Homo sapiens: one gene and its partner. The protein of the gene in region 1 purifies or fractionates together with the protein of each later gene. This does not show direct contact. Each region holds a gene or a part of one and is shown in the gene's direction. Other genes may lie near its edges.

Region 1 (5,319 bases):
TTCCATTAGGTTTGGTAGGCCTTCAGAAAGGGTGAATTTTTAAAACGAATGACTTAATCTTACCCTAATATGAACTGTCATTTACTATGTATTAGCTAGGTACAGTACTGTAGGCCACCAGCTTTTTCATGAAATTGTGTGCTTTGGTATCTGTGTGCTTTCTCTCGTTTCCTCTGTATCTCTGTGTGTCATTCTCTATGTGTTACTCCTTGTGGGTCATTCTGTGGGACGCTCAATATCTGGGTTGGAAAGTCTGAGCGGATGCCTCTGTCTCTTCGTTTCTCACTTTGTATGTTTGTGAATGTGACCCCTGTGGGCTTGTCTCCTCCCTGGGGCCCTCTCTTCTTTCCATCCCATTTTATTTAATGTGGGTCTTCTATACCCATTCAGTCCCGGTTTCCCCTCTCCATATACTCCATCATATGCTAGGTTTTGCAAAGAGATATTATTACCAATGACAAAATGTATGCTAAATTTCAGTTTTGTATTTATTAAATATAATTTATATTCTTTAGTCCCAATGTTTGGAAAAAACAAAGGTAGGTGAAATATTATATTTCTCATTTAAAGATAAACAGAACCCACATAAGTTGCTTTTCTCCTTATAAAACTCTCAATTGTTTATTTTTTCTTAGTCTTTTGATAAAAAGAAATTTTGTCACTGACTTAAATATAATTTTAAGCAATTTTATCAGTAGAATTTTGTTACCTGTCACCAAAAGTCTATGTACAACTAAACAGAATGTGTATAACTTCAATTTCATCCTTGAAACCAAATATTTTCATTCATTTCAGTGTAATATTTGGGACTTGTTAACCATTAGGGTGATTTTATTATTTATTTGTCGGATTTACTGTTACTTATGTAATGAAATCATAGCTTGGAAATAGTTTGATTATCTTCTGGGAATTGTGAACAAGCACAAAACCTGCAGTGTCCCTCATTTTTTAAATGGGTCTAACAGATGTTGGTTCCTCCTATCAATTTCCTGTGACAACTCAGAGGCCCCGTCTATTTTACAAAGTTACAAGTTCTGGAGAGAAGCCTGTCTTCAATTTTCATTCCTGATACATTGTAGGAACTTTGGTCATAAATATTTCAACTTCAGCCTCTCTTCCTCTGAAGTAGGATTTATAGGACCTTTGCTATCTTGAATTACAGTGATATTTACTTAGAATGGTTTAATTCCATTTAAAACTTTTTTTTTGCTGCTCAGGGTAAATTGACTTGATAACAACAGAGTGACCCCTCATGTTTGCAAATTCCAGGGGCCATGCCTAGTGACTGCATAATAGGAGGGGCTGGAGCCCTGATCCCTGTCATAAGGCATGTCAGAGCCTGCATCCCTAGATTTCAGGGATAACTCTCTGAAGCCTGGAAAGGGTCAGTATTCCAAAGGCTGCGTCCTCTCATCCTCTCCATTTTGGTTAACCCACTGCATTGTTTTAGATTCCTCTACATGAGAACTGTTTGTACTTTTTCCACTTAATGTTTTTTTAATCATTCAAGCTTCATAAATTCAATCCTGTTTTGATGCAAAGGTTGAAGGTTTAATTCATCTAAGGAAAAATGTGCTATAATTTATGATTTTTTTTTAAGCAAGTTTGTTCCGAGTGCAAATTGGGTATAGTGTGTTTTGGCAGGTCTGGTGAAGAAATATTATTTGTGGTAGAGTCCACTGCCGATACAAAAAACAATGTTATGTTCTCAGTGAGGTATTACCACTACAGACTGGCCACTAAAGTGTTTGTGTGGGTTAATACTGCATTGGATCTATAGGACTTAAGTAGGAGATTTGTATTTACTGTTGAGTGATATCCTTGCCATTGCAAGGGTCGTTTTCATTTTTAACCTTCCTTATGAGAGCTTAGACTAGCTTTGTAAAATAGAGGGAGGCTCTGAGTTGTCACAGGAAATTGATAGGAAGAACCAACATCTGTTAGAGTGGAGTCTGGTCAGAATGGTCATATCATACTGTTGTTAAGACCTTACCCGGCTGGGTACGGTGGCTCATGCCTATAATCCCAGCACTTTGGGAGGCCACATTGGTTGGATTGTCTGAGCTCAGGAGTTCGAGATCAGCCTGGGTAATGTGGCAGAACCGTATCTCTACAAAAAATACAAAAATTAGCCAGGTATGGTGGTGCACGCCTGTGGTCCCAGCTACTTGGGAGGCTGATGTGAAAGGATTGCTTGAGCCCCAGGAGGTCAAGGCTGCAGTGAGCCGAGATTGTGCCACTGCACTCCAGCCTGGGCGACGGAGTGGGACCCTGCCTTAAAAAAAAAAAAACATCGTAGCACTAGTTTGTTAAGATGACAGATTTGGAGCAAGTAGATTTTCTTTAATTTTTACTGTGGTTTCCTTCTTTCTCCTATTCCTCCTTCTTTCTCTCTTTCAGGTTAAGAGAGAGTACTCTTTTTAACCTAGGAACCACTTTAAGATTTTAGAAATAAGAATATGTTTCTACAGACCTGAACATTAGTGGTTTTTTTTTTTTTTTTTTTTTTTTGAGACAGAGTTTTGCTCTTGTTGCCCAGGCTGGAGGGCAATGGCACGATCTCAGCTCACCATGACCTCCGCCTCCCAGGTTCAAGCAATTTTCCTGCCTCAGCCTCCTGAATAGCTGGGATTACAAGGCATGCACCACCACGCCTGGCTAATTTTGTATTTTTAGTAGAGACGGGGTTTCTCCATGTTGAGGCTGGGCTCGAACTCCTGACCTCAGGTGATCTGCCCGCCTTGGCCTCCCAAAGTGCTGGGATTACCGGCGTGAGCTACCGTGCCCGGCCGGAACATTGGTTTTTCCCATGGACACTCCAAGGTCAACTGTTTTCTCCTTATGGTTTGGCATCCACAAAGCAGCAGGAATCTTCCAAGTACTGGTTCAACTACTGCTTTTACTAACTCCTTACCCACGTTATCCTTCCCCGTCTCCTCTCCCTCCCTACTCATACCCTTGATATCACTTACTATGGGACATTTGCAGCTCTCATTCAAAGCCATCCTTTAGATAAGACCTGAACATGCTTAAATTTGTTTCAGAGGATCTGTTGAGGATCTTTCCACCAGGGAATCCAGAGACTGATGTGGGCAGGAGAAGGAGGACAGTTTGATTCAAATCTCTAAAGACTACTTGGGAAATTATCCAGGCCAAAGTTGTCCTCCTCAAGGGGGCAAATCTCAACTGAAGAGTGTGTAACATTTATTTGTATTGCCCACCTCCAATTTTTATATATATGACATTTTCCCCTACTCAATTTATCCTTTCTTTCCTCTGGTGTTGGACTTTACCTGTATCTTTTTTCCTCCCTCATCACTTTCTTGCTGTTTACTTTTATTCCCTGTTTCATTCTCCAGTCCAGATCAGCAGTGATTGGGAAGGGTGGGTTGGGAGCAAAGGTGACACATCTCAGCATTGTCCTTGGGACCAGGCTGCTTGCTGTTTCCTTCCCCACCTCCCTTTATCCCGTTACCTGCACAGGGGAAGATAATCAACCCTAGACTTTCTTCCTTCATTTTGCCTACAGCCTATTCATCTGATGCTCATTCTGTCCTTCTGCTCCAGTACATCATAACTTGGGGTGAAGACCATGGGATTTAGAGTTGGATTCATGGTTTGACCTCTGGCTTTTCTGCTTGTTACATTGTGACATTGGCCACCTTAATTTCTAAGCCTAGATTTCTCTATGGGATCCCTGTCTTTGGAATTATTGTGAGGATGAAACAAGGTAATTATTGTAAGGGGCTTCTTATAGTTTGTGGTTCTTAGTAAGCACTTAATAAATGTTTCTGGCTGTTATTATTGTCACAATCATCATCATTATCATGGTTATTCAAAGTTCATCAAATATTTATTGAGTACTTCCCCTGTGTCAAGCGCCACGCTAAGAGGTAGGAGTAAAGCAGAGAGGAAGTCTGCAACCTCACCGAGTTTTAGTTGCTTTATTTCTTCTCGTTTAGGTCACAGGAATCTTTCAAAGAGTATAGCCCACAGTTTTGTGCTCCATTCCCCACCCCACTCCCAGAATCCTAGATTAAAATCTGTACAAATGGCCGGGCGCGGTGGCTCATGCCTATAATCCCAGCACTTTGGGAGGCCGAGGCGGGCAGATCACGAGGTCAGGAGATCGAGACCATCCTGGCTAACACGGTGAAACCCCGTCTCTACTAAAAATACAAAAAATTAGCCGGGCGTGGTGGCGGGCGCCTGTAGTCCCAGCTACTCGGGAGGCTGAGGCAGGAGAATGGTGTGAACCCGGGAGGCGTAGCTTGCAGTGAGCCAAGATTGCGCCACTGCACTCCAGCCTGGGTGACAGAGTGAGACTCCGTCTCAAAAAAAAAAAAAAAAAATCTGTACAAATATTTCCACAGGAATATTGTTATATGTTGGGAGTAAGTTTCATTCTCCTATTAAGACTACTGTTATGTCAAGCAGTAATAAGGACTTTAAAGAAAAATAAAATCAGATGTGGAGTTAGTGATGGAGAGTGCTGTTATGATAGATGAATCTAGGAAAGCCTCTTTGGAGATGTGATACCTGAACAGAACCCCGAATGATAAGAAGAAATACCAGTGTTTTAGGAGAGATTGTCCTAAGCAGAGAACAGCAGCTGCAAAGACCCCAAGACACATACACTTGGTTATTAAGAATGGGAGCAGCAAGGAGTATGGCAAGAACACAGTGAGTTAAGGAAGAATGAAATCTAATGAGGCCATGCACTTTGGGAACTAGAGTATGTAGAATCTCATAGGCTGTCACTGGGACTTGAGTTTTCCCTTGAGTGTGTGAGGAAGCCCTCAGAGTTTGTGACTGACTTGTAGAGGTTCTAGTGGAGGGGATCAGAGTGGAAACAAAGAGACCAGTTAAAAAGGTATGGCAGCATGAATAAAAAAGTTTTGAGAGTATTCATTATGCCTTCCAAATAAAAAACTCTTTGGTTCATAATTTGTTCATAAATTAAGGACTGGCTACACTGTACTATTTAAAAATGTTAAGAAACATCAATAAGTAAAAATGTTAGGAAGAGATGATAAATACGTAAGTATTATATCTAACTAAGTCTTTACTAACTAGTCACATTATTAAACAGTGCAAGGATCAAGAAAAGTTAAGCGTTGAAAAATAAATAAATAAGTTATAAATAAAATAAACAGCCCAAGGAAATGTTCCAGTCCCCATAGGTAGACTCGGGGTCATCTTCTTTATTTAAATCTTTATTTAAATGTGGATAGCATCCCAAGAGACTTGGGTCTACACTAAGAATATTCAAATCCATGTTTCTGAAACCATCAGAGATAGAAAAAAAAAGTAGCGAAT
Region 2 (4,677 bases), on another chromosome or scaffold:
CTTGCCAGAGTAATTATACAAGGCAAAGAAAGGAAAGGCATCTAAATAGGAAGGGAAGGGGTGAGATTGTCTGTGTTTTAGACTCCACAAAAAACCCATTACAGCTGATAAACACTATATTCAATAAAGTTGAGAGTTACAAAATTAACATTGGTTTCCATACACCAATGACAAACTGTTATCTGAAAAATAAGGTAATTCCATTTATAATAGCAACAAAACAAATATATAAGTAAATCAAAGAGCAAGGAGTAATTTTAATGAAGGATGTGAACGATTTGTATACTGAAAATTATAGCACATTGATGAAAGAAATTGAAAGTGACAAATAGAAAAAGTCCTATATTTGTCAACTGAAAAAATTAATATTGTCAAAATTTCAATGCTACTCAAAGCATTCTACAGATTAAATGCAACCGCTGTCAAATTCCAATGTCATTCTTCACAGAAATAGAAAAATTAGTCCTAAAATCTGAATGGAACCACAAAAGATGCTGAAAAACCAAAGCAATCTTTAGCAAAAAGAACAAACCTGGAGGCATCAGACTACCTAATCTTTGACAAAGCAAACAAGAAAATGGGAAAGGACACCCTATTCAACATATGCTGCTGGTATAATTGGCAAGCCACATGCAGAAAAATGAAGCCGTTCTTCAAAGGTTAAATACAGAATTACCACATGACTCAGTAAATTCACTCCTATGTATACACCAAAAATAAATTAAAACAAATGCCTTACACATAAAGGTATTTATAGCAACAAAAAGTAGGAAACAACAGAAATGTCCATGAATTTTGGAGTGGATTAATAAAATGTGGTCTGTCCATAAAATAAAATATTACTTGGCAATGAAAAAGAAAAACATATTAATACATGCTCCAAAAAGGATGAACATTGAAAACATGATAAATGAAAGTAGTAAGTCACACGTAACTATATTATTATGATTCCACTTACATGAAATGTCCAGAATAGGCAAATCCTTCCAGAATAGGCAAATTCTTAGGAAGTAGATGGATGATTGCCTAGGGCTGGGAGAGGTTTAAAGGAAGAATGGGGAAAATAGGGAAAGATTGCTAATGGGTGCAAAGTTTCTTTTAAGGAGCATAAAAATGTTCTAAAATCGTGGTGATTGTTTAACTAGTTAATACACTTAAAAAACTGAATTTTATACTTTAAATGAGTGAATTAAATAATATATAAATTGTATCTCAATGAACCTGTGAAAAAAGTTAAAAAATATGTGGTATGCATAAACAAAAAGTTCTTCATTTTATTTCCTAGGGTTTTGGGGAAAAGGTGGTGTTTGATTATATGAGTAAGTTCTTTAGAGGTGATTCAGGAGATTTTGGTGCACCCAACACCTGTGCAGTATACACTGTATACACTGCACCGGGGCAGGAGCTGGCTGCAATCCTGTGGCCCCAAATGCCCCCTTGCTGATGGCCTCGTGTTCTGGGTGCGGAGCAAAGAGGAGCAGGTGTTGAAGGCACCTCAGGCAGGCCCTGGGCTCGGTGGGCGTCTTGTGCTCCGCGATTTTGAGGCCATTTGCAGCCAGCTCCGTCAGCCCGAGCTCCCAGCTGCAGCTGCTGCCATGCACAACAGCACCGCCAGGAGTGTCCTGGGGGCTTTTTTCAAAGGAGGCTGTCAGCATCCTCAAGTTCCAGACGCTTAGCCCCAGTCCTCCTTTAAGAGGCTTTTTTTTTTTTCACCAGAGGCTTCTCAGTGGCTTGAAAGCTCAGCTGACTCCCACGAAGTTTGCCGGAACTCAAGGCTGTCAGTGACATTCGTGGCGCCAAGACTTAAGCAGGCGCGTTGCATGCATCGGCCAGTGTCTGTGCCACGTGCCCTGACGCCACCTGAGATAAGCACGCCGCACGCCGCACGCCGCACGCGCACGCCGCACGCGCACGCGCACGCCCGGCAGCAGCTTGCTGGCTTGTAACGGCTTGCACGCGCACGCCGCACGCGCATAACGGTTTGGCCGGCCTGTAACGGCTTGCACGCGCACGCCGCACGCGCGTAACGGCTTGGCTGGCCTGTAATGGCTTGCACGCGCATGCTGCACGCGCTTTAACGGCTTGGCTGGCCTGTAGCGGCTTGGCTTGGCTTTGCGTTCTTGGCTTGGCTTGGCGTTGGTAGCTTGGATTGACGTTTCCTGCTTGGATTGACGTTTTCTCTCTCGTGTTCCTTTGCTGGGCTTGACCTTTTCTCTGCTGGGTTTGGCATTCCCTTGGGTGGGCTGGGTGTTTTCTTGGGGGCGGGGGTTGGCCCTTTCTGGGGTTGGCCCTTTCTGGGGTGGGCGTGGGGTCGCCCAGGGGGGGCGTGGGCTTTCCTCGGGTGGGTGTGGGTTTTCCCTGGGTGGGGTGGGCTGGGCTGGAATCCCCTGCTGGGGTTGGCAGGTTTTGGCTGGGATTGACATTTCTCTTCAAACAGATTGGAAACCCGGAGTTACCTGCTAGTTGGTGAAACTGGTTGGTAGACGCGATCTGTTGGCTACTACTGGCTTCTCCTGGCTGTTAAAAGCAGATGGTGGTTGAGGTTGATTCCATGCCGGCTGCCTCTTCTGTGAAGAAGCCATTTGGTCTCAGGAGCAAGATGGGCAAGTGGTGCTGCCGTTGCTTCCCCTGCTACAGGGAGAGCGGCAAGAGCAACGTGGGCACTTCTGGAGACCACGACGACTCTGCTATGAAGACACTCAGGAGCAAGATGGGCAAGTGGTGCCACCACTGCTTCCCCTGCTGCAGGGGGAGTGGCAAGAGCAACGTGGGCGCTTCTGGAGACCACGACGACTCTGCTATGAAGACACTCAGGAACAAGATGGGGAAGTGGTGCTGCCACTGCTTCCCCTGCTGCAGGGGGAGCGGCAAGAGCAAGGTGGGCGCTTGGGGAGACTACGATGACAGCGCCTTCATGGAGCCCAGGTACCACGTCCGTGGAGAAGATCTGGACAAGCTCCACAGAGCTGCCTGGTGGGGTAAAGTCCCCAGAAAGGATCTCATCGTCATGCTCAGGGACACTGACGTGAACAAGAAGGACAAGCAAAAGAGGTAACCAGGCCTGGGCTGGGAGGAGGTGGGACGTGGGGGGATGATGGGGACATACCCTCCTGGCGGGGGAGGAGGGGGACCTGGCTTTCTCGCCTCCGCAGGCCTCACACCACCCTGGATGTGGAAACCTCAGAGAGGTCAGGGTACAGGGCCCTTTATGAACAGCAACACAAAAACAAAACTTTAGCTGATTTCCAATCATAATTTCCCTCATAGAACACTAATAGACTGTTTTAAAGTGATTTAACTTGCAAAATTAATTAAGTCAATGCAGCAGATTATTTTTAATCTACAGATTTTAAAACAATGTTCTATACATTATAGAAAAGTGTATATTGAGAACTAAGAACAAAGCCCCATAACACATCAACTTCAGGGCTAAATATTCTTCAAATAAAATCCAGTATGGATTTTATATCAATGTACAGTATGTAAATATGTTCTTTACTGAGGAACCTTAGAAGGAAACTGAAATGGGAAGATGGTTCCTGTGCTTGAACAGGAAGATTGAATTTTCTTAAGATGTGAGCTTTTTGGCTGGGCGCGGTGGCTCACGCCTGTAATCCCAGCACTTTGGGAGGCGGGCGGATCACGAGGTCAGGAGATCGAGACCATCCTGGCTAACACGGTGAAACCCCGTCTCTACTAAAAAATATAAAAAAAATTAGCTGGGTGCGGTCGTAGACGCCTGTAGTCCCAGCTACTCAGGAGGCTGAGGCAGGAGAATGGCGTGAACCCGGGAGGTGGAGCTTGCAGTGAGCAGAGATAGTGCCACCGCACTCCAGCCTGGGCGACAGAGCGAGACTCCCTTTCAAAAAAAAAAAAAAAAGATGGGAGCTTTTTCTATTTATCACTTTTACCTAAGCCAAATAAAAATAGCAAAGTTTTAGCGTTTTTAAATTACACATGCTGTCTTTTATTATTGTGATAAATTAATTTTTTGTAACAGAATGGAAAAAGTCTGCTTTTCCAGATATCAAAATGTGCATGTTATTTATTTCCACAAATTGTTTACTAACAGCTGAAAAGACATCAATGAATACAACAGAATAGGAAATTTAGAAATACCCAAATATATGTTAAGAATTTAGCGCTTGATAATGGTGGTGTTTTTTATTATTTGAAAAAGATGGATTGTTCATAATTCATGTTTGGAGAAAACTAGCTAGATTTTTATGTCACAAAAATAAGAGTATAGATTAAAAATTTTAAATATACAAAAAGAGAAACATACCAGAAGAGAAACATACAAATGCCTATTTATATATGCAGATATATATTTATATATATACTTTTTTTTGGATGGAGTCTGACTCTGCTGCCCCGGCTGGAGTGCAGTAGTGCGATCTCGGCTCACTGCAACCTCTGCCTCCTAGGTTCAAGCAATTCTCTGCTTCAGCCTACTGAGTAGCTGGGATTACAGGCGCCTGCCACCACGCCTGGCTAATTGCTTTGTATTTTTAGTAGAGATGGGGTTTCACCATCTTGGCCAGGCAGGTCTTGAACTCCTGTCCTCGTGATCCACCCACCTTGGCTTCCCCAAGTGCTGGGGTTACAGGCGTGAGCCACTGTGCCTGGCCTATATTTGCAGACATAATAAAATAAGCTCATTTTAAAATTGGGCAA

The links.
Region 2: the proteins of FGD4 (region 1) and POTEE purify together in Homo sapiens (affinity purification with mass spectrometry, with the first as the bait; one large-scale study listed by BioGRID). This does not show direct contact.

Annotation. Positions count from the first base shown.
Region 1 is NC_000012.12:32,576,553-32,581,871, forward strand, and holds part of FGD4 (FYVE, RhoGEF and PH domain-containing protein 4), read left to right. Parts: intron 1-3,044; exon of another isoform or gene 3,045-3,193; intron 3,194-3,199; exon of another isoform or gene 3,200-3,730; intron 3,731-5,319. UniProt on the Homo sapiens protein: Activates CDC42, a member of the Ras-like family of Rho- and Rac proteins, by exchanging bound GDP for free GTP. Plays a role in regulating the actin cytoskeleton and cell shape. Activates MAPK8.
Region 2 is NC_000002.12:131,215,873-131,220,549, forward strand, and holds part of POTEE (POTE ankyrin domain family member E), read left to right. Parts: intron 1-1,716; 5' UTR 1,717-1,811; exon of another isoform or gene 1,812-2,437; 5' UTR 2,438-2,530; coding exon 2,531-3,051; intron 3,052-4,677.